Homo sapiens: one gene and its partners. The protein of the gene in region 2 purifies or fractionates together with the protein of the main gene of each other region. This does not show direct contact. Each region holds a gene or a part of one and is shown on either strand. Other genes may lie near its edges. The genes, in order: ATL3, GALNT8, ITPRIP, TMEM164 and SLC9A8.

Region 1 (4,758 bases), on a different chromosome or scaffold from region 2:
ACTCCCAGCTAATGAGGAGGCTGAGGCAGGAGAATTGCTTGAACCTGGGAGGCGGAGACTGTAGTGACCAAGATGGTGCCACTGCACTCCAGCCTGGGCAACAGAGTGAGACTACATCTCAAAAAAAAAAAAAAAAAAAGGACAAACAGGTGTGAAGGCATGCTTATAGGATTGGGCTAAAAACAGAAGTAATGGATGAAAGTCTGTATAAGAAACACATGACTTACCCCTCCCGATCCTTACAAAGAAATCTGTGGAGAGGCTCTATGCCCATAGCTTACAAGGCATAGATGAGACTGGGGCTAAGAAGCCCTACTGATAGCTAGGGGATAGTGAATGCCCACCTTCTGAACAGTGAGATCCCCAATGCCATTTCCCTGCTCAACTCCCAGAACAACAGCCAGGTCTGTGCCACCCATACAGGAGTAAGGAAGTAAAGAACAGAAGTGGTAACACATAAGAGCATCAGCCTCTGGGAAGTGAAAACTGGGTAGAGAGGAGAATAACACACATGACAGCTGCTTTCTGTTAGAAGCCTTACAGTAGTACCTGACCTTTTAAACTATATTCATGCATTTTATTTAAGAATCTTAAAAACAATCAATATGTATTAATTTTAAATCATTCACTTTGATAAAAAGTTGTTTTCACATCTTCCTTCCTTTTATTGAAAAAAAATTTCAGAAAATAACAGTTCATAAAAGACACAAACAAATCAACAGGTATATACCAGTGGAAAACACAATATGAAACTAAAAATGCCATTGGCTTTTTTTTTTTTTTTTTGAGACGGAGTCTCGTACTGTCGCCCGAGCTGGAGGACAGTGGTGTGATCTCGGCTCACTGCAACCTCTGCCTCCCGGGTTCAAGCGTTTCTCCTGCCTCAGCCTCCCAAGTAGCTGGGATTACAGGCACCCACCACCACACCCAGCTAATTTTTTGTATTTTTAGTAGAGACAGGGTTTCACTATGTTGGCCAGGCTGGTCTCAAACTCCTGACCTTGTGATCTGCCCACCCTGGCCTCCCAAAGTGTTGGTATTACAGACGTGAGCCACAGCACCCGGCTGCCACTGGCTTCTTTAATTGGTTAAGAGCACAAAATGTAACAGGCAGAAGGTCTGTTTCAAACAAATTAAAAAGCTATGTGTTTTTTAAATTCTCCCCAAGTTGGATATACACACACCCACAAAAATAGTGTGTGAAGGAAAGCTGTCATACACAGTAAGTTGTATCCTGAATTATTCAAGGAAACACATGTTGAAATAGGAATTAACAGAGTCAGCAACAGATTAATATTTTTTAACTGAGTCTAAAAATGCTACATAGCCCTAAGGAATACTACATAAAGTACTGCTAGGTACAAACAAAAAAGTCTGTATAGCTTTTAGCAAAAATGTTTTTCCAGAAAAGAAAATTAAAATAATGCAATCAGCAGACCAAGGAGACTACAGCTAGACATCAGAGCTACAACTTCGCATACCTGTGTCAGAAAATCCTATTTATCCACAACAGACTAAAATTTCAGGACAAAACAGGGACTTTTTAACTTTTCTTACTTTACCCATTTTAAATTCTTTGATAAAAGGTTTTTAATTGGGTTAACACAGTACATGCTGAAGTTCATATTTTGTTGTTGTTGTTGTTAATCTGTAAGGTCATTTTCATCCTTACCTTCTTCCCACCTGGCTTCTCCACAGTGAAAACTTCACTCCAGATTTGAATCCCAGTGGTTTCTGGATCAGATCCCCCTCTCCAGGAAAATCCTGTTAACGGTTCTTCTGGGTCACCCAACCAATTTGAATGGCCACTTTCCTTCTACAGAAGTAAGAAATTTCTATTAAATCTTAAATTAAAAATTTTATGCATCAAGGATAATCTATGAGCTTATTTCGCTTTTTTGGACATTAAAGTCTCACTTTTTACTTGAAATAAAATAATTCTATCTTACCTGAGAATATAAGTATCGTAGCATAAAATCCAGAATGAAGGACTTGCCCTTTCGGAAGGCACCAGCCACTGAAACCACCACCACATCAAGATCTCGGATGTGGTCCTGCAAGAGGATGCTGGCCAAGGCTTTCTCATCTAGCTCAAAGGAATGTTGATCTTTCTGAACCAAAACAACCTGCACTGGACCAGGCTTGCTGCTCTCCATGGCATCATCTATGTTCATGCAGAGAAAAAAAATCAGTGTCAAATATTTAAAATATGTTTTTGAATATAGGGAAAACAAAAACTTCTTAAACAGGGGACAGGGCCAGGCTCAATGGCTCATGCCTATAATCACAGCACTTTGGGAAACCAAAGCAGAAAGATTACTTGAGGCCAGGAGTTTCAGACTAGCCTGGGAAACGGTGAAACCCAGCGCTATGAAATTTAAAAAATTAGCCATATGTAGTGGTGTATACCTGTAGTCCTAGCTACTTGGGAGGCTGAGGCAGGAAGACTGCTTGAGCCCAGGGGTTTGAGGTTACAGTGAGCTATGACCACACCACTGTACTCCAACCTGGGTGACAAAACTAAACAAAACAAAAAACGGACACAAAAATACTAACCATAAAAGGGCAGGGCACAGTGGTTCGCCCCTGTAATCCCAGCACTTTGGGAAGCCGAGGTGGGTGGATCACTTGAGGTCAGGAGTTCAAGACCAGCCTGGCCAACATGACGAAACCCCATCTCTACCAACAAATACAAAAATTAGCTGGGTGTGGTGGCACGCACCTGTAAGTCCTAGCTACTCGGGAGGCTGAGGCACGAGAATAACTTGAAACTGGGAGGCAGAGGTTGCAGTGAGCCGAGATCATGCCATTGCACTCCCACCTGGGTGACAGATAAGACCCTGTCTCAAGTTAATGGGTGCAGCACACCAGCATGGAACATGTATACATATGTAACTAACCTGCACATTGTGCACATGTACCCTAAAACTTAAAGTATAATAATAATAAAAAATAAATAAAATAAAATGTTGTTAAAAAAAAAAAGACCCTGTCTCAAAGAAAAAAAGTACTATCCATAAAAGAAAATAAAATGACAACACAGACTTCATTAAAATTAAAAACTTTGTTCACTTAAAGACTTCAATAAGTAAAAATGCAAGCCATGGGCTAGGGAAGAGTATTCACAATATCTGTTTCCAAAGGACCCACATCCAGCATCAACATAGCAATCCATAAGAAAAAAATAACAGGCACTTTGTAAGAAAAAGATATACAAATCCTATTAAAAGGTACTTCCATATCATTACTTAACAGGGAAATCTAAATTAAAACCACAATAAGATACCACTACCTGCCCATCAGAATGGCTAAAATTTAAAGACTGACAATATCAACTGTGGGACAGGGTATGAAGCAACCGCAATTCTCACACATTCTGATAGGAGCACAAAATACTAAAGCCACTTCAAAAAACTGTTTGGCTGTATCTACAAAAATTAAATATATCTGTGATCCAGCAATTCTACTCCTAGGTATACACCTAAGAGAAATGAATGCCTATGTCCACCAAAAAACATATATACAAGAATGTTGAGCTGGGCATGGTGGCTCGCACATATAGTCCCAGCTACTTGGAGAGCTGAGGCAGGAGGATTACTTGGGCCCAGGAGTTCAAGACCAACCTGGACAATATTGCAAGACTCTATCTCAAAAACAGAAAGTTCATTATCAGCTTTACTCAAAACAGTCCAAAAGTGGAAATAAAACAATGTCTATCAATAATAGTGTTTGCCACTGCTAAGCTTTATTTAGATATATATATACACATATATATATATTATTTAATCCTCAGAACAACTCTTTGATGTAAATAATACTGCTCCATTTTAAGAAGAAGGAAATGGCCAGGCTCAGTGGCTCACATTTACAATCTCAGCACTTTGGGAGGCCAAGGCAAGCTGATCACTTGAGGTCAGGAGTTCAAAACCAGCCTGGCCAACATGGTAAAGCCCCGTCTCTATAAAAATACAGAAAAAAAAAAAAATTAGCCATGCGTGGTGTCGCACGCCTGTGGTCCCAGCTACTGAAGAGGCTGAGGGAGAAGAATTGCTTGAACCGGGAGGCAGAAGCTGCAGTGAGCCGTGATCGCGCCACTGCACTCCAGCCTGGGTGGCAGAGTGAGACTTGGTCTCAAAAAAAAAAAAAAAGAAGGAAATGAAGGCTTATGAAGGTTCAGCATATTGCCCAACAGGTCCTAGATATAAGCTCAAAAAGATCTTTAGGTGGTTGTATTTTGCATATCACTAGTAATAACTCAAAAAGTTTTAGAAGCTATTAATTCTATAGTTCAAAATTAAGCACTAACTATATTATACTTTCCTTACCAGAGTTTCCCTACCAAAGCACAAAGATAACTAATTAATTTGAAATTCAGGCCAGGCACAGCATCCACGCCTGTAATCCTAGCACTTAGAGAAGCTGAGATGGCAGGATTGCTTGAGGCCAGGAGTTCAAGACCAACTTGGCCAATATAGCGAGAGACTGTCTTAAAGAGAAGAGAAGAGAAGAGAAGGCAAGGGGCCGGGCGTGCTGGCTCACCTGCGCAATCCCAGCACTTTGGGAGGCCGAGGCGGGCAGATCACCTGAGGTTGTGAGTTCCAGACCAGCCTGACCAACATGGAGAAACCCCATCTCTACTAAAAATACAAAATTAGCCCGGTGTGGTGGCACGTGCTTGTAATCCCAGCTACTTAGGAGGCTGAGGCAGGAGAATCGCTTGAACCCAGTAGGTGGAGGTTGTGGTGAGCTGAGATTGCA
Region 2 (5,532 bases):
GCAGTTGTTGTCTAAACATCTTCTGTCTTGCTAGGCTTCCCATTTCCTGTTTCTTTGGTTAGAGAAAGCAGCTTTTTCTTGGGGCTTCTATTGTCTCTGCCCATTGCATTTCCAAGTTGTTGACTGCTCCAGCATCCAGCAACTTGGAATCTATTTCCTACAATAGCTAGGATATCTGGAGATCTCTAGTCAGCCTGCCCTGTTCTCTCTACCTTTCAGAGTCTTCTTAGGTTTGTTTTACATATCATGTGTACTTTTTACTTGCCTTGATGGGAAGGAATAGAGAAGATAAATGTAGGTATTTCTTCTTGTCCCAGAAGCAGAAGGGTTATGCTTTTTTGTTTGTTTGTTTTTTGTAGTTGTTGTTGTTGTTGTTTGAGATGGAGTTTTGTTCTTGTTGCCCAGGCTGGAGTGCAGTGGCGCGATCTCGACTCACTGCAACCTCCGCCTCCTGGGTTCAAGCGATTTTCCTGCCTCTGCCTCCCAAGTCGCTCGGATTACAGGTGCCTGCCACCATGCCCAGCTAATTTTGTTATTTTTAGTAGAGATGGCGTTTCACCATGTTGGCCAGGCTGGTCTTGAACTCCTGACCTCAGGTGATCCACCTGCCTCGGCCTCCCAAAGTGCTGGGATTACAGGCGTGAGCCACTGCGCCTGGCTGGATCATGCGTTTCTTATGTTTTGAGTCTAATTTGCAAGTGGGAGGCTGGGAGACATTTTCTATCCCTGCGAAACAGAAGAAGTGATTCCTTTTCATTTTGTTCATTTTCATCCTGTTTTTCCTAAAGCCACATTACTTTCCTTTAATCCACATGTCCGCCTCAGCACATGTCACCATGTGCTGTGTTTGGGACGTAGTAAATAGTCCAAAGAGCCAGGCCGGGGTGGAAGCTGTGATTTTGACGGGATTGACAGTAGACTGAGAACTTTGAACTTTTAGCCTTGGGGAACAATTTTATGTGTTTATTCTACAATGATGATCACTGGTGATTTGTCCAAAACATATTATAAGTGTGAGGTGTGGAGGCAAAGGAGTTACTGGAAGCTGGGGCAGGGCAGAAGCCCAGTGTATGAAGTTGTGCAGAGGACAAGCAAAGGACAGAGACCAGTGAATCGGAGTCATCCCCTGAGGCTCAACCCCGGGCACCGCCTCCAGCTCTTCTCCACCTGCTTCTAGGCAGTGAAGTCCTAGGAACTAGCAAGAAAGTCTGTCCTTAAGTTTGTGGGACAAGCATTTGTTGCACACCTACTATGTCCAAAACCCTGTAGAGTTAGGTAAAAAGACATCTTAGATCCCAGCTCTCCAAAAAAGCAAGGATCTAAGTGTACAGAGACTTCTTGCTTCGTGATTTCTTCTTCATCCTATTTATCCCCTTCTTATACCCACAGGACCAGACCTCACATGCCCTATCAGAGTCTCCCAGGTGGTTTTTCCAGGGAGAGAGAACATTAAACATCAAACAAACATATATAGAGAAAAGCCTCTCACCCAGGCAGCCTGAGCTAGCTGCAGGAGCAAGCATTCTTCTGACTTCTGAGACAGTACAAGGTGTGTCCAGGTGACTTACCTGTCACTGGGCAGCTGCCATGCGCACTCCTCACACCTGACGCTGCTCAGGGAGAAGCCAGGCAGCTATAATAGTGTTCTTGGCCGGAGAACATCTGGCCTAGCAGGCAGGGTGTCATCTATGAAGCTGGGTGGAGAGAAAGCTGTTGGGGAAACCAGCCCCACACCACCCAGCGGATACCCCGAGTCCGGCGGAGACAAAGGAGTTAGAAAGAGACAGAACAAGCGTTTAAAAGGCAGGTCCAGGGGACCAGAGCGTTGGAGGCTTGCTCACGGCCCAGAGCTCTGGGCTCCACCCAATTTATTGGTTTACAAGCTCTTTGTTCTTAGGGCAGATGGGAAGGGGAGGAAGGGATGAGGAAAAGGATTAATCAGTGAGTCATTCGATAAGATGTGTAACAGTGGCGGTTTCTGTGAATTTCCTTGAGCAAAGGCGTGTGTCTAAACTACTTAAGATCTTTAATGACTGAAATGGGTGGGAGTGGGTTTCAGGAGGAGCCAAGATGTTTGATTATACTCCTCTGCTTCAAGGGAGTGTTATCTCCCTGAGCAACCTGTGGAAAGCCGCTGAGCAACCTGTGGAAAGCCGCTGAGCGGTTATCCTCTCGGGGCATAAAGACAAAGAAGGCAATAAGGAGACTTTGCTCCTCAGAGGCCACCCGTGGCTTCCCATGGGTGTCTCACACAGGGGAGACCAACTCAACTGGCACCTAGAACTCTCTTTCCCACAAAAGCTAGGCTGGTTCTGATTCTTAACCTGCTCCAGCAGTGACACACTCAGTCCCACAGGGAGTGGACGACCCCCAGGAAGAAGATGATGTTTTGGAGGAAACTCCCCAAAGCCCTCTTCATTGGGCTGACTCTGGCCATTGCTGTCAATCTCCTTCTGGTATTTTCTAGCAAGGGGACTTTACAAAACCTGTTTACGGGTGGTCTCCACAGGGAGCTTCCTTTACATCTGAATAAACGCTACGGGGCAGTGATAAAGAGACTCTCCCACTTGGAGGTGGAATTGCAGGATCTGAGTAAGTTTACAATGCTAACCTGGAAGGTGTGTGTGTGGGTGTGTGTGTTTGGGGCACTTAGGAAAAAGGGATATGGAAGGAAAAATGGGTGAGAGGTCACATTTTCATCTCAGTCGCTCATTGAAGCATCTGACACTGAATTCTGTGCCTTCAAATGGGAGATGGGTATTGAGAATGAAGTGAGTAGAAGTGGAAATTAGAGCAAGCAGTATGGGGGAGGTGAGCATGTGTGTGTGTATGCGTGTGTGGGCTTGTGCACATGCATTATCATTATATCTACATATGTGCAGGCAACGAGAAGAATAAGAATCCCAAGGGCCATAGACCTGTCCTTAGGCCTATTGAAGGGGTGGGTTGCACCTCCACACCTGTGGGTGTTTCTCGTTAGGTGGAACGAGAGACTTTGGAAGAGAAAAAGACACAGAAACAAAGTATGTAGAGAGAAATAAGGGGGCCCAGGGGACCAGCGTTCAGCATACGGAGGATCCCGCCAGCCTCTGAGTTCCCTTAGTATTTATTGATCATTCTTGGGTGTTTCTCGGAGAGGGGGATGTGTCAGGGTCATAGGATAATAGTGGAGAGAAGGTCAGCAGATAAACACGTGAACAAAGGTCTCTGCATCATAGACAAGGTAAAGAATTAAGTGCTGTGCTTTAGATATGCATACACATAAACATCTCAATGCCTTAAACAGCAGTATTGCTGCCCGCATGTCCCACCTCCAGCCCTAAGGCGGTTTTCTCCTATCTCAGTAGATGGAATATACAATCGGGTTTTACACCGAGACATTCCATTGCCCAGGGACGGGCAGGAGACAGATGCCTTCCTCTTGTCTCAACTGCAGAAAGGCGTTCCTTCCTCTTTTACTAATCCTCCTCAGCACAGACCCTTTACGGGTGTCGGGCTGGGGGACAGTCAGGTCTTTCCCTTCCCACGAGGCCATATTTCAGATGGTCACATGGGGAGAAACCTTGGACAATACCTGGCTTTCCTAGGCAGAGGTCCCTGTGGCCTTCCGCAGTGTTTTGTGTCCCTGGGTACTTGAGATTAGGGAGTGGTGATGACTCTTAACGAGCATGCTGCCTTCAAGCATCTGTTTAACAAAGCACATCTTGCATAGCCCTTAATCCATTTAACCCTGAGTCGACACAGCACATGTTTCAGGGAGCACGGGGTTGGGGGTACGGTTACAGATTAACAGCATCTCAAGGCAGAAGAATTTTTCTTAGTACAGAACAAAATGGAGTCTCCTATGTCTAGTTCTTTCTACACAGACACAGTAACAATCTGATCTCTCTTTCCTTTCCCCACGCCTATGTGTGGTAGGGGCTGTTGAAGAGAGGTGGCAATCTCTGGGGCAAGGGCCTCGCTTCCATTTTGCGGTGTGCTCCTTTCATGAACTAATGAGGGCTTTGTTAGAGGACCTAAGATCGAATCCTGATGTGCCATTGTGGTTGTGTGACTTTGAGCAAGTGCTTCTCTCTCTCAGCCTCAGGTTCCTGGTCTGTAAATGGAGATGATGATAACAATAGTGATAGTTATCAACCTGACCTAATAGGGTTGTGAAGTAGATGCAGAAGGTGATCTATAAACTGCTCTGTGCCAAATTTTAACCTCCTCATTTAAACTTAAGGGTAAGATTTCAACACATTCTGGGGTTTGTTTGTGATTCCGGCTCACCATGGAAGTCTAATGCCTCTGAATTTTATGTGCCTGTGCATCCAACTTCAGCAAGGGAAGCAGCAATTTCCCCCTGCTCCCAGGTAACAGGGATCAAATGCTGGAACCCCATAGGGAGGTGTTTTATGTGTGGGCAGGGATGTGACTGCCCAGGTGTGTGCACATGGGGCTGGAGTTGGGGAAAGTGTCTTTTAAAATGAGAACTGAGCATTGTCAGGGTTCAGGGTGAGGCTGGGAGATGGGTGGAAGGAAAGGCAGGAAGAGAAAAAGGAAGGGAGAGAAGAAATCAGGGAAAGAGCGAGGAGAGTGAGAAGGGAGATGAGAGAGGAGAAAAGAGCTGGGACAGGAAAGGAGCAGAGAAGTGAGGGAGTCCAGGGAGAGAGAGTGAAAGAGTTTGTATGGAGACAAGAAGAAAAGAAGGGAAAGTGTGATGGGAGAGAAGGAGAGAATAAAAGGAGAGAGGAGGAGTCCTAAGGCACCCATAGCACCTTCCACGTCCTCCTTCATAAGACTCATCATATTTTATTATGGTACAGTTTTATGGAAAGCAAGTTTCATAAGTGCTGTTTCCATGAACGTCTCATTCACTACTCATTTCTATTCATACATCGAAATTCCATAGATGAATAAATGAGTGGGTGTGTCTAGGAAAGAGAGAGAAAAAGACAGGCAGACAGGGATGAAGGGAAGAGTGATACGGGGCAAGAGAGTGGATGAAACAGAGGGAAGATCATCAGCTCCACAAGCCCTGGCTTACCTGGGTGGGTCGGACATTGCCCATGCAAATATGCTTGGTGCAGCTTCACCAGGAGGATGCCTGTGTACCTAGGGTGGTGACCCCAGCACCACCCTCACTATTTGGCAGAGCACCCAGACCACACCAGGACTGTCTCACCCATCCCCAAGGCTCATCACACTGGCTCAGCCTCCTCAAGCCGTAAAATGGCAGGAGTTCTACCCAAAGCCCTGCTATTCTTTCCATCAGCTAGGACACAATGTGCCATGAGGAGCCAGCCAGAGCCATCTGGTTTACTCCTCTTTCCTTTTTTGCAAAGATCTTTCTTGTTATTCTTGGTGCTCCCACATTTTATTCGCTCTGAAATGTTGTGATGTCAGAGACTCACTACCACCTGAGTTGAACCTCAAAAAGTCTTCTGGGCCCTGTTTCTAGATCACCAATGCTTTTTTTTTTTTTTTTTTTCCACAGAGCTTCCTATAACTAAAAGCCTGTTTAATTACCCTTCATCCTGTTTGCTCATT
Region 3 (3,891 bases), on a different chromosome or scaffold from region 2:
AGCTGAAACTCAAAGCTGATCTGTTTTCACATTCCGCTCATGCGGGCTTCAGAGCCACACAATTTCACTTTCAATTACTTACCACACTTCATTGATCTCTGACTTACTTTGCAGCCATTGGTAGTCTTCCTATTAGACCCAGTTCCTTGGGGACAGAGCCCCCATCTTATACTTTTGTTCCCCACATAGAGCCGGACCTAGGCAGATCACATGCTCTTGCTCAGTACTTGGTCAAACACCTTTTCCTCACTGTTGATTCAAAATTTATTCAACGATGATTGACTAAATCCCAGGCAATGGTTATTTTTATAATAAGATGCTGGTGGTGAATCCACATACAGCAAGTACAGAATATGGAGATTACTGGGAGAGGAAGGATCATTTCAAAACAGGATTTGTGCACAGAGACGTTCACTAGAGTGTTGTTTATAACAGCAAAAAGTGGAGACAACTTAAGTGTTCCTCAGTAGGGAAAGTTGGGTAAATTATGGTACATGCATACAGACAGTGAGATAGTAAGCAGCCATATATATATATATATATATATATATTTTTTTTTTTTTTTTTTGAGACAGGGTCTTACTCACTCTGTCACCCAGGCTGGAGTGCAGTGGAGTGATCACGGCTCGCTGCAGCCTCTGCCTCCCAGGCACAAGCAATCCTCCCACCCCAGCCTCCGGAGTAGCTGGGATTAGAGGTACACGCCACCATGTCTGGCTAATTTATATATTTTTTGTAGAGACAAGGTTTGCCATGTTGCCCAGGCTGGTCTCAAACTCCTGGGCTCAAGCGATTTTCCTGCCTTGGCCTCCCAAAGTGCTGGGATTATAGGTGTGAGCTAATGTACTCGGCCAGTAAGCAGCTAGTTTAAAGAATAAGGTAGAGCCAAATGTTCAAAAAGATAACCAAGAAGAATTAGTCGGTATGATGCCATTTATGTAAAAAAGGACTAAAAGGATGCATATATATATACATACATGTGACACATACACAGAAAAATTTTGGAAGGATACACCAAAAACTTCATATTGGTTATCTCTGGGGAGTGGACTAAGAAGTCAGAAGTGGGACCGTTAGTCTGTTACTTAATTTTCCTGTTAGTACTTGAATTTTAAAATTATGACTGTATTATTGCTTTTATGTTTATTTTTTAAACAACAAACTAGTTAAACAAGCAAGCTATTTTTGGATGGCAATGAGAAAAGTTAACTCTAAAAGATGCCCTTCCCAGGGACAGGGGTGGGGCAAGGCAGAGTGGGGCGGAGAGGGAGGGCCCTGTTGAAGGCACACATTGCCCTTCACTCTGTGACTCTTGGCTCCCTCTGCTTTCGGTCGCTGGCCAAACCAAACAGCCTTCCAGCTCTGTCCCGTGAGGTGGAGATGAGACGGACCACGAAAATGTTCTGAATCACAGCCTTGGGGTGGCTTGAGTTAAGACTTCCTGGACATTCACCAACCACTGCCAGCTGCCACCAACCCTGCTCGGGAAGCCGGCCATGTACCCTACAGCACAGGACATGGATGGCACTGATCACATAGATAAGGACTCCTTAGTTTGGGGGTGAATCAAGTTACTGTCTCACTCAAAACCCGCCAATGGCCCACCTCTGCTTGTTGTGAGGTCCAAATTTACCTTGTATTAGCATTCAAGGCTTTGCATGGTTCAGCCCCACTCTTATCTTTTCAACCTCATTTGCTACGACTTCTCAGTATATGCCAACATGTACACCAGGACTGCCTGGGTTGGAATCTGGGCTGTGCTACTTACCACTGTGACAGTAGGTAAGTCAGTTGCCCCTTCAGTGCCTGTTTCCTTATCTGGAAAGCAGGGAGGATAAGAATAGCACCTACATCATAGGACTGACATGGAACTGTGTGCATTAACAAATGTGTGTGCGGAACGGTGCCTGCCATACAGTAGGTGCTTCCCACCCTCACTCCATGCTTCTGGCTGGAATGTCTTTCCTGGCCACAGTCCTGGTCATTTTTCAGAGTCTCTATCTGGCAGCGCCCCACCATGAGGCCTTCCCTAATCAGCCCAGGTACCAGTGGTTCTTGGACATCCAGAATCAGGTGGGGAACTTGGTGAAGTGCAGATTCTTCTACCTAACTTCTCAGGATCCCACTGGAGTCTGTGACACGGCCCAGGAAGCTGCCCCCAGGTGACACCCGTATGTGTAGTGCAGGGTCACACTTGGAATAGCTCAGTACTTGGAAGGCCACCTTCTGCTGCCTCTCCTAGGGAACAGGCTTGGTCCTATTCATTTTCCCATCTTCCACAATGTCTCATGCACGTTAGGCTCCTGACAAATGCTTGTGGACTATTCATGACCTGCTTGGGAGAAGGGCTCACCATCTTATGCCTTCCCACCCTCTCTCTGAGGCTTACGGCACTAGCGTGAATGTGGGTGCCCTCATGAGAAGCTTGTGGTGTAGCTGATGCCACTTAGACCACAGATTCCAAGCAGGCTCATTGGCTTTTCCCAGGTCTATCTATCTTCCAATAGATCTGTAGGGAAAGTAGTCCACTTGGGTTTTCTTTAACTTTCCATTAAGAAAGAAAGTGAGAGGGCTTCCTCAGCTAGGGGTACCATCAGTCACTTGGGGGAAATCTTTAAAAATCGAGCCTAGCCTGACCACTCCAGACTGGATTCTGAGCACCATGTAGGTTCAAGGCGGGGTCGGGGCAATGGACCAGGTTGTCTGGGTGATTCGGATGACACCCTTGATGATGAACCAGAGCTCCACCCCCAGGTTCTCAACGGGGGCTGTGCTTCAGCCAGGCATGCAGAGGGGCTAGAGCTTTTGAGGATATAAGGCCCTTCCCCAACATAACCAGCCTCTTGGCCTAGGGGCCAACTCTATTCATTTCACCCTTGTTATTTTGCAAAGCAAGTGAGCAGTTGCTGGGGAAAGTCAAGCATCCTTGGGAAAGAGACTCTGGGGAAAGAGGGCAGGGTTGTCCTTAGTGGAAAGGCCAAAGTCCCCTAGAGGACTCAAAATCCTCTATTTAAAATACAATCTCTTTCTTTAAAACCCAAAAGCTTCCTGTTAGTTCCAGCTCCTATATTTCTCGCTGACATTAGCTCTGTGAAATAAGGTCTTAGGCTGGAATCCACCCTACAGCCAGCTTTCAAAGGCCCTTTCTGGAGCCCTGCGGGCAGCACACAAGTTGCCTCAAAGACAGGGTAGAAATGTTCTGTTTTGTTATTTTTTAAAGTCTCCTGAAAGTGTAAGAATAAAAAGGGAGTGAAAGCTTCTGCTTTGTCAATAGGAAATCCACCCCCCTGTCCCCAACTCTGCCCTGGGAGCCTCACAGATTTCCTGAAGTTAAAAACAAACAGTGACCATTTCTACTCCTTGCAAGATTTAATTCTTCCTTTAATATAAATAAGGCAGCATGAAACACCAAGAGCCCCACTGCTTTCTGCTTTAGAAGCAGCTTTGGTGCAGAAAAGATTCCCGTTTCCCCACCGAGTTCTGTTGTCTCTGTACACACAAGAAGCCAGAAGATATTTTTTTTTCAGTGAACTTTCTCCTGGAAGCAAAGGAGAAGCTATGGGAGATCCAGGCATGGTTTTGGCTTCTGGAGGCTGTTTTTTGGTTACTGGGGTCTCTTCAAAGCAAAACGGGATCAGGATGAAGAGGGGGAAAGGCATGGGCCATAAATAAATAAGGAAATTTGCCCCGATTCTACAAATGCATCTGATGGAATGAGGAGGGTCAGGCTGTGAGGGATTGGGGGTAGCTCCAGGCTGCTGTTAGGGACACACTTGAGCTGGTTCATTCCCTGGAGTGCCCCGCAACTGCGTCTAGGGAGAGGCAGGCCCAAGCACATGTTCAGTCTAATTCCAGCTCACACTGGAAGGCTTCCTATAGGTTTGGTTGCCC
Region 4 (4,758 bases), on a different chromosome or scaffold from region 2:
TAGAATTTGAATCTAGGCTTTTACCACCCTAGAGCCTGTACTCTTACCCAATACACCACTATGATCTTGAAATGTTAAGTAATACTATTACTATTAAAAACTGCTAACATTTATTTAGTGCACACAATAAGCCAGAAATTCTGCTAAATACTTGATTTAAATTATTTTATTTAACCCTCACAACAACCCTATTATTATTCCCATTTTACAGATGCAGCTAAGTAACATGCCTAAGGTTACATGGTGATGGAGCTCAAACCCAAACCCAGGAAATATGGTCCAAAGGCTCTATCCACCAAGCTGAACTTGCATTAGGAAAATGAAGCATTCCTACTGCCCTACTTAAGTCAGGATCCCCGCTGTATCCCAGTCCAAGCCTACAATGTCCCAGCAAGAATTTGGCAAGTAAATGCCAATGAGGAAACTTATCTGGCCCTGATGTGTACACACCAGCCACTCAGATCTGATTAATGTTAAGAAAAGAAGATCAAAACTCTTTATAGAAGTCTCTCTTTACCCCATTTTCCTTCAACCTGATTTCTGAAGAGAACACCTGACTACCAGCCTTTTTGTGCTCTGCCCAGAACATCTAATAAGTGTTTACCCAGGACTCCCAGAGCCATAGTTAAGGGCCTTAATGTGCAATCTGGCTCTGCACCTTATTTAATCAGCACCTGAATGAAATGTCTCTTTGCTAGCAACAGCCAGAACACAGTCAGTCAGAGTCTTTCTGCAAACACAGCTGGTCGATTGGCAAAGACAATTCAATTCACAGGCAAAATACACCCTGACTTTATACCAATACTGGCATGTGATGGACATGAGGAGACTGAAGGCACTGGGCTAGAATTAGGATGGTACCATGCTTCCTTTCCCCTCCAGATGATCTCACTCCTCCCTCTCCTACCCACCTAAACACATGGCCACAGGGCAGAGCTTGCACTGTTTTCGCCAAACAGGCCAATCCTGTCTGACCTCCTGGCTCCTGCAATCCATTCCCTTCCCTCAACACCACCCAGCTCAGAATAAAACTCATATTATCCTTCCTCCCTCTGCCATTTCCTCCAGCAGCTACTAGACGGGAACCAAAACCAATCAAGAGATCCCCCAAACCCTTCCCTTCAGGATCTCATGCTGGTAACAGGTCCAAGTGCCTTGATGCCCATGAACTGACAGATGTGCAAGCGCTGCCCTGTGTAGCCAGGAAAGAGCTGAGTAAACACAGAGGACTGACTGGTGCCCAGAAGAGGGGTCCTCGCCAGGCCTTCAGATTAACTGCTGCATCCAAGCACTGTGGAGGGAGATTTACATTAATATGAAACCCTGGGGGTCAGCATGTAGGGTGGCAAGGCATGGATAACTCCAGTTCTCCTGATCAGGGGCTTTAGCGGGAGAGAAGAGGCCAAAACCTGAGCAAGGCACATGAGAAAGGACATCTGCTTAAAAACACTAGACACAGTCTACCAATTAGATATAATGTTAGGGTAACAAGGCCCTTTTTTAAAACTCATCCTCTCCCTGACGCCCAGTGGAGTCTGTCCACTCACATTTCAGTATGAACCTCTGAAATAAAACTGCTTTCTTCCTAATCCCCCATGGCTATCATCTCCTCTGATGAGATGGGCATTTTGAATTATAGAAAGGATTGTTTTGGAACTTGTGTGGGGTGGATCAGGTGGACAGACTTGGAAACAGGGAAGAAGAGATATGAAAAAGAAAGGTAGAAAGATGGCACCACACTTCATTAGTGCTGCTGTGGACTTTAGAGCAGCAACCATCCACAAGCCACTAAAAAGCATCTACTGGTTGCAGGTGGGATGCCTGCTATCTCCTTATTTCTCACATTTAATGTCTGTTCACTTACCCCAATGTTGTGTGCCTCTGTTGTTGACAGTGTGGGCCCTCCTTGGGACAGCACAGAGAACACAATTTTCTATCTCATCCCCTATCGAGGATTCAAGGGCATCTGCAGGTCGTTTATCAACAGCCTAGAAATGACAGAGCATTCCTAGAGTTTCACTTAGTTGGCCAAGGGAGAAGTAAGACATCTACCCCTGATAATAATAAGCAAATAATTCCAGGTTACAGTTGAGACACTTTTCTGTGAAGGAGGAAGCAACTCTGCGAACTTATGGTAGGATCTCTCAAAGTGAGGTCAAAGGCTCACAGGCATTAGAATCATCTGGGAGTTTCTTATAAATGCAGATTCCCATCCTCATCCTAGACCTGCTCAGAATTGCTATGAAGAGAGCTAGACATCTACATTATAACAAGCTTCCAAGGGATTCTTTCACAAATAAAGTTTGATAATCACTGCTCTCCACATCCATCCTCTTCCTGTCTACTTGAACCCTGGGTAAGTGAATAGATATTAAATAGGAGAAATGGGGAGATAGCACATAGCCTTTGCACTTATTGTTTCTTATGCCTAGAATTGCTTTCCTTCCTCCATCACCCAATGAATTCCTACGCATTCAAATACATTTATTGAGCACCTACTAGAGCCAGTCCCTGTTCTAGGCACTAAGAGAACAAAAACCAAGGGTCCTTGCTTTCATGGAGCTAACATGAGCCAGCTCAAATGCCACCTCTTCTAGGAAGCTTTCCTTAATTGCATTAGGAAAAAAAAAGACCCCTGTCCCCTATGCTTTGTTCAAATCTGTTACTATACATGTAATGTTGTAATTTAGTTGATCTATTTCCTTGTCCATCTCATCAAAACTGTGAACAAAATGAAGGCAAAGGCTACTTCTTCTTTTTTTTTTGTTTTTGGTTTTGTTTTTGAAAGTACATCAACAATGACTGCTTCTTATTTCTCTTTGAATCTCCAATACCTGGCACCAATGTTTGGCACACAATAGGCATTCGATAAATATCTGTTGAGTGAACGCAAGAAAGAATAAACTCCCACGAACATCTAAAACAACAGTCCTGCAAACAGAGAGTTAGCATACAACAAACCATGTGTCAACATTCCCTCTTGTTAGTCCCTGCAGATCTTAGAGACTGGAAAGCGGGGGGATATAGAAGGACTGGAGGGATATATTCCATATATCACTGGAAGGTAATAAAGGTGGCCTGGTTGAAATACTCCATTGACATAACTAACAGTCACCAAACAAGCCAGTGGAACTCTACAGCTACCTTAAAACCCTCTTCACAATAACTTGGGGCCCTCATCCTCTAATCTGAATCACACTATTTAACAGGTATTGAGATGGTGCCAGAACACTTAATGCCTTGCCCACAGATCACCCAGACTCATGCTCAATTAGGATGGGCACTGAAACCAACTTCCCACCTAATTACTTCAGCCACTAGATAATGTCTCTAAAAGTGGGGTCCAAGGCTGACCAGCATTAGAATCACCCAAGAGCGAGTATAAATGCAGATTCCAATCCTCACCCTAGACCTGCTCAGAATCACCATGTAGAGAACAAGGTATCCGCATTATAACAAGCTTCCAAGAGACTCTTTTACAAATAAAGTTTGACAATCACCGCTTTCCACATCCAGAGTCTCTTCGCATTCACTCAGCCAGTTCCTGGCAGGAGAGGAGCACGTGAGACAAGACATTCTCAATTTAACAAAATATATGAAAGACCAGGAGAAGCAGAGAAACCTAGCTCTTCATTTCAATGAGGCATAACAATGAGGTATCCACTGAAAAAGAGAAGAGGGGAGAAAAAGGAAAAGTAAGTCTCTGGCTTAATAACATTTTTTATTTATATGATATTAAGAAGCAAGAAAGTTGGCATGTCCAAGAGATTAAGATCAAGATCCAACAGTGTGATTTCCTGATTGGGAGAAAAGCAAACAGACACTTTGGGCCAAGAGTAGAGATTCTAATAACCATTCTTTGTGATGGAAATTCTACAAAAAGATGTGTGAGCAGGAGCTGAGATTGCCTCACTCCTGTGGCTATTTCAAAAAACAGGCAGAAAGATTTTTTTTTTTTTTTTGAGACAGAGTCTTGCTCTGTCACCCAGGCTGGAGTGCAGTGGCGGGATCTCGGCTCACTGCAACCTCTGCCTCCTCGGTTCAAGCGATTCTCCTGCCTCAGCCTCCCGAGTAGCTGGGACTACAGGCGCGTGCCACCACACCTGGCTAATTTTTTGTATTTTTAGTAGAGAGAGGGTTTCACCGTGTTAGCCAAGATGGTCTCAATCTCCTGACCTCGTGATCTGCCTGCCTCAGCCTCCCAAAGTCTGGGATTACAGGCGTGTGCCACCATGCCTGGCTGGAAGATTCTCTTAATAGGAACATAGGGCCACCAGTGGAGAAAGAAAAAAGGAAAGCAAAAAGTCAGTTCCATCAATCATTCAGTCACCATTATCCAGGTACACATTAAACAATTAATGTGCATATACAGTATTATATTCAGCTCTGCAAGGAGTTACAAAGGAAAAATCCACTACTCCTTTACTTTAAAAAAGTGTTCCCACTAATGGTGGAGAAACATTAAAGAAACATGCAAAAACAAAAAACAAAAAACAAACAAACAAAAAAAAATGATCTGGCCAAACACCAGATTACCTACATGCATACAAAGGTATTCATTAAAGAGCCCAACATTCTGACATGTATTCAGACGGCTGGGAAAGGACAAAAAGTGTTACTGGAGTCAGGTCAGGCTCCTATGGAAAGGTTTCGTAGAGGAGAATCTTCAGGGGAGTATTTACAGAGGGGGAGGAAACTAAAAACAAGTCTCACAAAGACTGAGAAGAAGGTGGCCCATCTGTGGCAAAGGAATAAAAA
Region 5 (4,715 bases), on a different chromosome or scaffold from region 2:
AGGGCTGGCAAGACCATGGCCTCCAATCTCCATGCTCAGCTGGGCCCCTCACCCAGTGCAGTGCTGCTGGGAGGAAACTTCCAGATGGCTGTGAGGCCTGGCTCTGCAGAACTTCCACCACACTAAGAGGCCCTTTGCCCCCACCCCCTATCTACCAACTTTTTTGTTTTTCACAAAAGCTCTAGCTTAGGCCTTTCTGGGTATCAGAATCGGTGGGGGGCTTGCTACACACAGGCTGCTGGGTCTCACACCAGCATCTCATAGGTATGGTATGGGGTCCGAAAGAATTTGTGTTTCTTCTTATTTATTTTTGAGACAGGGTCTCACTCTATTGCACAGGCTGAAGTGCAGTGGCGTGATCGTGGCCCACTGCAGCCCAGACCTCTTGGGCTCAAGCGATCCTCCCACCTCAGCCTCTGGAGTAGTTGGGACTCCAGACAGGCGTGACCCCACCCAGTTAATTTTTTCTTATTTTTAGTAGAGATGGGGTCTCACCATGTGGTCCAGGCTAAGAATTTGCGTTTCTAACAAGTTGCCAGGTGGTGCTGCTGCAGCTGATCCTGTGAACACGCTTGGCGAAGCACAGCACTAGCAGAAACAGGACAGCTCCTCTGAGGATGAACCGCTGAGTTTCTGGAATGTTTTCTGTGGCAGTCAGTGTGCTTGCGTTTTCCTTGGATGATCTCAGATTGTCCCCATAGCCTGCCAGAAACTGGCGCTTTCATTATACCCACTTTGCAGATGAGAATGCCGAGGCACCAAGAGAATCAGACAGCTGTGGGCACAGACTCCCGAGCCTGTCCTCTTTACTACCACGCTGATCAGCAGTCCTCAAAATGGGCTCCCCAGACTAGCAGCATCACTGGAAACCTGTTAGATCTGCAGATTCCCAAGCCCATTCAGACCTACTGAATTAGCACCTCTGCAGGTGGCTGCGGTGGGCTCAGTATTTTGTGGTTTCACAGGCCCCCCAGGTAGATTCTAATACAGACCAGTGTTTGACAACCACTGCTTCACAGCATCTAAATGCCCTCCCCTCCCCGGCCATCCTCTGCCCTCCCTGCACCTGCCCCGTCCCCCTCCCCACCACCTGCAGTGAAGCTGCAGAGCACACTTCACTGTGGCCCCACTGAGACTCCTCCAGCAGAGCAGGCGCTGCACTCAGAGCCTGTCTGCTTTGCTCCTACCTATGACCCGAGTCCCGCCTCTTTACCTCCGTCTCTCCCCTCCACATGGGGTCCTTTTCTTCGTCCCTCCCCAATTCCTACAGGATGTGTTCCTCTCCCCTCTCCTCTCTTGACTTGATTGGCAAAAGCCTGTCCACGGTGGAGTCCTAGCTAATAGAGCCACAGGCAAAGAGACAAAAAGCCTCCCTGTGCGATTTGCTGCTAATGAAAAGCCCAGAACAGCAGTTCTGGTCCTGGTTGCATGATAGAATCACCCAAAAGCTTGAAAAGCTTAAAGACCAAGCCCCAGCCTGGCCCAGTCCTTCTGTTTTAGCTGTCCTAGGTGGGGTCCTGGGCATCCATTGTGCCCTGATGGACGTTCCTGCCTCCCTGCAGGCTCCCAGGAGGCCGTCTGCTGCCCGTCACCCTGCATTGATGGTCAAGTGGAGTTAGGGTTGGGGACACTGGCGGCCTGGGTGGTGTGGGGGCTTCCAGGAGGTGCCCCCCGATGGTGCCAGCTGGTGGCCGTCGGGCCGCCTTTCCTCCCTGCTCAGGGCAACACTGTGGAGTCGGAGCACCTGTCGGAGCTCACGGAGGAGGAGTACGAGGCCCACTACATCAGGCGGCAGGACCTTAAGGGCTTCGTGTGGCTGGACGCCAAGTACCTGAACCCCTTCTTCACTCGGAGGCTGACGCAGGAGGTGGGATACCGGCCAGGCCACACTTTCTGGGGGTCCCTTGCCTGCCTCCTTCAGGACCTGCGGTGGCCCAGGGTGGGGTGGAGGAAGAGTGGGGAGGCAGGAAAGCTCACGTGGGCCCGCCAGGCCGCCGCCTCCCGATCTGGAGGCTGGACGTGCTTGTGGAACTCGGCATCTGCTGTTTTTCCTTCGCTGCCACATTTAGTGCGAGGTTAATAATAGATTTGTTAACACAGTTTGGTTTTCCTGGATGATAGACTCGGGGTATTGATCAGCTACTGAATCGGAGCTGAGGAATTTCAGACATACCAGGGCCTCAAGCTGTGGCCCAAGTCTGCCCCCAGCTCAGGGCTCTGGTTCTGTCCCTCGGGGCACTGCTGGCCTCTCTTTAGTTGGAGGCCTTGGGTAGGGGTGGGGCTCTTCCTGCTGCTGCCCGCTTTGTTTCCGAGCAGGCCCATTTTCCACTCTCCGGCAGGCCTGAGAGCTGCCGGTGTGTGCGCTCTTCCAGGAGCCAGGCAGCTCCAGTGACTGTGACCACGACCGCTTCCTTCTCCAGCATCCTGTGCAGTGGATGCAGCTGTGTCCCTGACAGCTGAGGAGATGGAGGCCTAAGGGGGTGCAGTAACCCCGCAAGGTCACAGCCAATATGGGCATAACTGGGAGCAGAGCTAACTGTGTCTGACTCCAGAGACCACATGTTCAGCCTCAAGCCATGCTCCCTCCTCCTTTCTGAATGACACCTCCCGTGACCTCCACCCCCACAAAGAACAATCCCAGCTCAGTTTGTTCAACTGAAACTGAAGTTGCCTGTGGCCATCACCCTGCCTCCCACCTCCTCCCTAGACACCCCACACAAAACACCCAGTAGCATCCCCTCCCTTCCATGGCCCTGCCCCTGACGCCCTGACGGCTTGGTTGTGTCTCTCGACCCAGGACCTGCACCACGGGCGCATCCAGATGAAAACTCTCACCAACAAGTGGTACGAGGAGGTACGCCAGGGCCCCTCCGGCTCCGAGGACGACGAGCAGGAGCTGCTCTGACGCCAGGTGCCAAGGCTTCAGGCAGGCAGGCCCAGGATGGGCGTTTGCTGCGCACAGACACTCAGCAGGGGCCTCGCAGAGATGCGTGCATCCAGCAGCCCCTTCAAGACATAAGAGGGCGGGGCGAGGTACTGGCTGCAGAGTCGCCTTAGTCCAGAACCTGACAGGCCTCTGGAGCCAGGCGACTTCTTGGGAAACTGTCATCTCCCGACTCCTCCCTGAGCCAGCCTCCGCTCAGTGTGGCTCCTCAGCCCACAGAGGGGAGGGAGCATGGGGCCAGGTGCCAGTCATCTGTGAAGCTAGGGCGCCTACCCCCCCACCCGGAGGACCCCTGCGGCCCCCTGCCTAGAGGAGCACCATCTACAGTTGTGCCATTCCCCAGCCACTGCCTTCATGCTGCCCCCGCCGGACTGGCAGAGCCAGGGGTCAGCCACCTGCCTTTGAGTCATCAAGATGCCTCTGCAGCCACAATTCTGACCTAAGTGGCAGGGCCCAGAAATCCTGAAAACCTCCCGCTGCCTTTTGTGATACTTCCTGTGCTCCCTCAGAGAGAAACGGAGTGACCTTTTGTCCTTTACCTGATTGGCACTTCGCAGTCTATCTCCCTGGGTAGCAGACGGCTGCTGCCCTTCTCTGGGCATGTTCTGAATGTTTACACTGGTACCTTCTGGTATCTTCTTTAGAGCCCCCTGCAAGCTGCAACTCTAGGCTTTTATCTTGCGGGGTCAGAGCGCCCTCTAGAGGGAAAAGCTAGAGGCACAGGGTTTCTGCCGGCCCACAACTGCTGTCTTGATTTGCATTTTACAGCAAAGTGCTGAGAGCCTCTAGTCGCCTCCTGCCATCTGATCTCCCTCCCCACCATTCCCGTACTCAGTTGTTCTTTTGTCTAATCGGAGGCCACTGTGCTGAGGCCCTGCAGTGTCTGCTCACTGCTGCCATCTTCGCTGCTAGTCAGGGTTCCATCCTCTTTCCCCTCTCCCAGTTCCCTACCACGTTGGATCCCATTCGTCACCCATGCTAGGGTCCCCAAAGCACTGGGGCAGGGGCCAGAGCAGCAGCACCCAGTGCTCCCTCCTCTACTCTGACCTGGGGCCCCAGCATCCTGGAGCACACGCTCCACGCACACACACCCCAGCCCTGTCCCAGGGGCCTGGCCCCCTCAGCCATCTCAGGGTGAGGAGCTGCCAGTCATGTCCAGATGGAATGACTCCCATCCTCTCCTCATCTCCCCTTTGACGAGCCTCAAACTGCTCAGCTCATCAAAGAGCCATTGCCAACTTCCGTATGTGGTTCTGGGTCCCAGGGAGCCTTGGAACCTGGCACCCTGGGGTGGTTTAATTCATCATTAAGAAGCATTCCTGCTTCTCAAGGGACACAGTGGCCTGCATGGGCCAGCATGGACCCTGGGCTGATCATGTGCATTCCTGCTTCTCTGGGGACACAGTGGGCCCACATGGGCCAGCATGGACCCTGGGCTAGAGCAAGCACATCTCCATCTCTTCCACCTCAGGCAGTGTGGCTCCAGATGTCAGGAGGGACTGACCTCAGGACCTTCCAGGTTCCTCTGTGCCAGGAATGAGAGGCCAGGCCCGATCCTACCACCTCGCCTTGACCCTGAAGTCAGAGCAGGCCAGCCAAGCAGGAAGCACACTGTTTACTTTTTGCATGAAAAGTAAATGTGTACTTGATAGAGCTAAAATATGATCTTTTTTAATTTCTCAACCCCATAATTTGAGCCATTGCCTTGCTTAATTTTGGTTTCCACCATTTCCTTTTAGTGGAGAAGAGAGGAAGTCAGAGGGTAGGGACC

Evidence for each region.
Region 1: the proteins of GALNT8 (region 2) and ATL3 purify together in Homo sapiens (affinity purification with mass spectrometry; one large-scale study listed by BioGRID and IntAct). This does not show direct contact.
Region 3: the proteins of GALNT8 (region 2) and ITPRIP purify together in Homo sapiens (affinity purification with mass spectrometry; one large-scale study listed by BioGRID and IntAct). This does not show direct contact.
Region 4: the proteins of GALNT8 (region 2) and TMEM164 purify together in Homo sapiens (affinity purification with mass spectrometry; one large-scale study listed by BioGRID and IntAct). This does not show direct contact.
Region 5: the proteins of GALNT8 (region 2) and SLC9A8 purify together in Homo sapiens (affinity purification with mass spectrometry; one large-scale study listed by BioGRID and IntAct). This does not show direct contact.

The regions. Positions count from the first base shown.
Region 1 is NC_000011.10:63,657,089-63,661,846, forward strand, and holds part of ATL3 (atlastin-3), read right to left. Parts: intron 2,165-4,758; coding exon 1,950-2,164; intron 1,875-1,949; exon of another isoform or gene 1,817-1,874; coding exon 1,673-1,816; intron 1-1,672. UniProt on the Homo sapiens protein: Atlastin-3 (ATL3) is a membrane-anchored GTPase that mediates the GTP-dependent fusion of endoplasmic reticulum (ER) membranes, maintaining the continuous ER network. It facilitates the formation of three-way junctions where ER tubules intersect.
Region 2 is NC_000012.12:4,718,297-4,723,828, forward strand, and holds the start of GALNT8 (probable polypeptide N-acetylgalactosaminyltransferase 8), read left to right. Parts: upstream 1-2,103; 5' UTR 2,104-2,381; coding exon 2,382-2,592; intron 2,593-5,532. UniProt on the Homo sapiens protein: Probably catalyzes the initial reaction in O-linked oligosaccharide biosynthesis, the transfer of an N-acetyl-D-galactosamine residue to a serine or threonine residue on the protein receptor.
Region 3 is NC_000010.11:104,308,781-104,312,671, forward strand, and holds the end of ITPRIP (inositol 1,4,5-trisphosphate receptor-interacting protein precursor), read right to left. Parts: 3' UTR 920-3,891; downstream 1-919. UniProt on the Homo sapiens protein: Enhances Ca(2+)-mediated inhibition of inositol 1,4,5-triphosphate receptor (ITPR) Ca(2+) release.
Region 4 is NC_000023.11:110,009,197-110,013,954, reverse strand, and holds part of TMEM164 (transmembrane protein 164), read right to left. Parts: intron 1-4,758.
Region 5 is NC_000020.11:49,885,032-49,889,746, forward strand, and holds part of SLC9A8 (sodium/hydrogen exchanger 8), read left to right. Parts: intron 1-532; coding exon of another isoform or gene 533-592; exon of another isoform or gene 593-1,534; intron 1,535-1,562; coding exon of another isoform or gene 1,563-1,619; exon of another isoform or gene 1,620-1,714; intron 1,715-1,720; coding exon 1,721-1,867; intron 1,868-2,797; coding exon 2,798-2,905; 3' UTR 2,906-4,715. UniProt on the Homo sapiens protein: Na(+)/H(+) antiporter. Mediates the electoneutral exchange of intracellular H(+) ions for extracellular Na(+) in 1:1 stoichiometry. Acts as an Na(+)/H(+) exchanger in the trans-Golgi.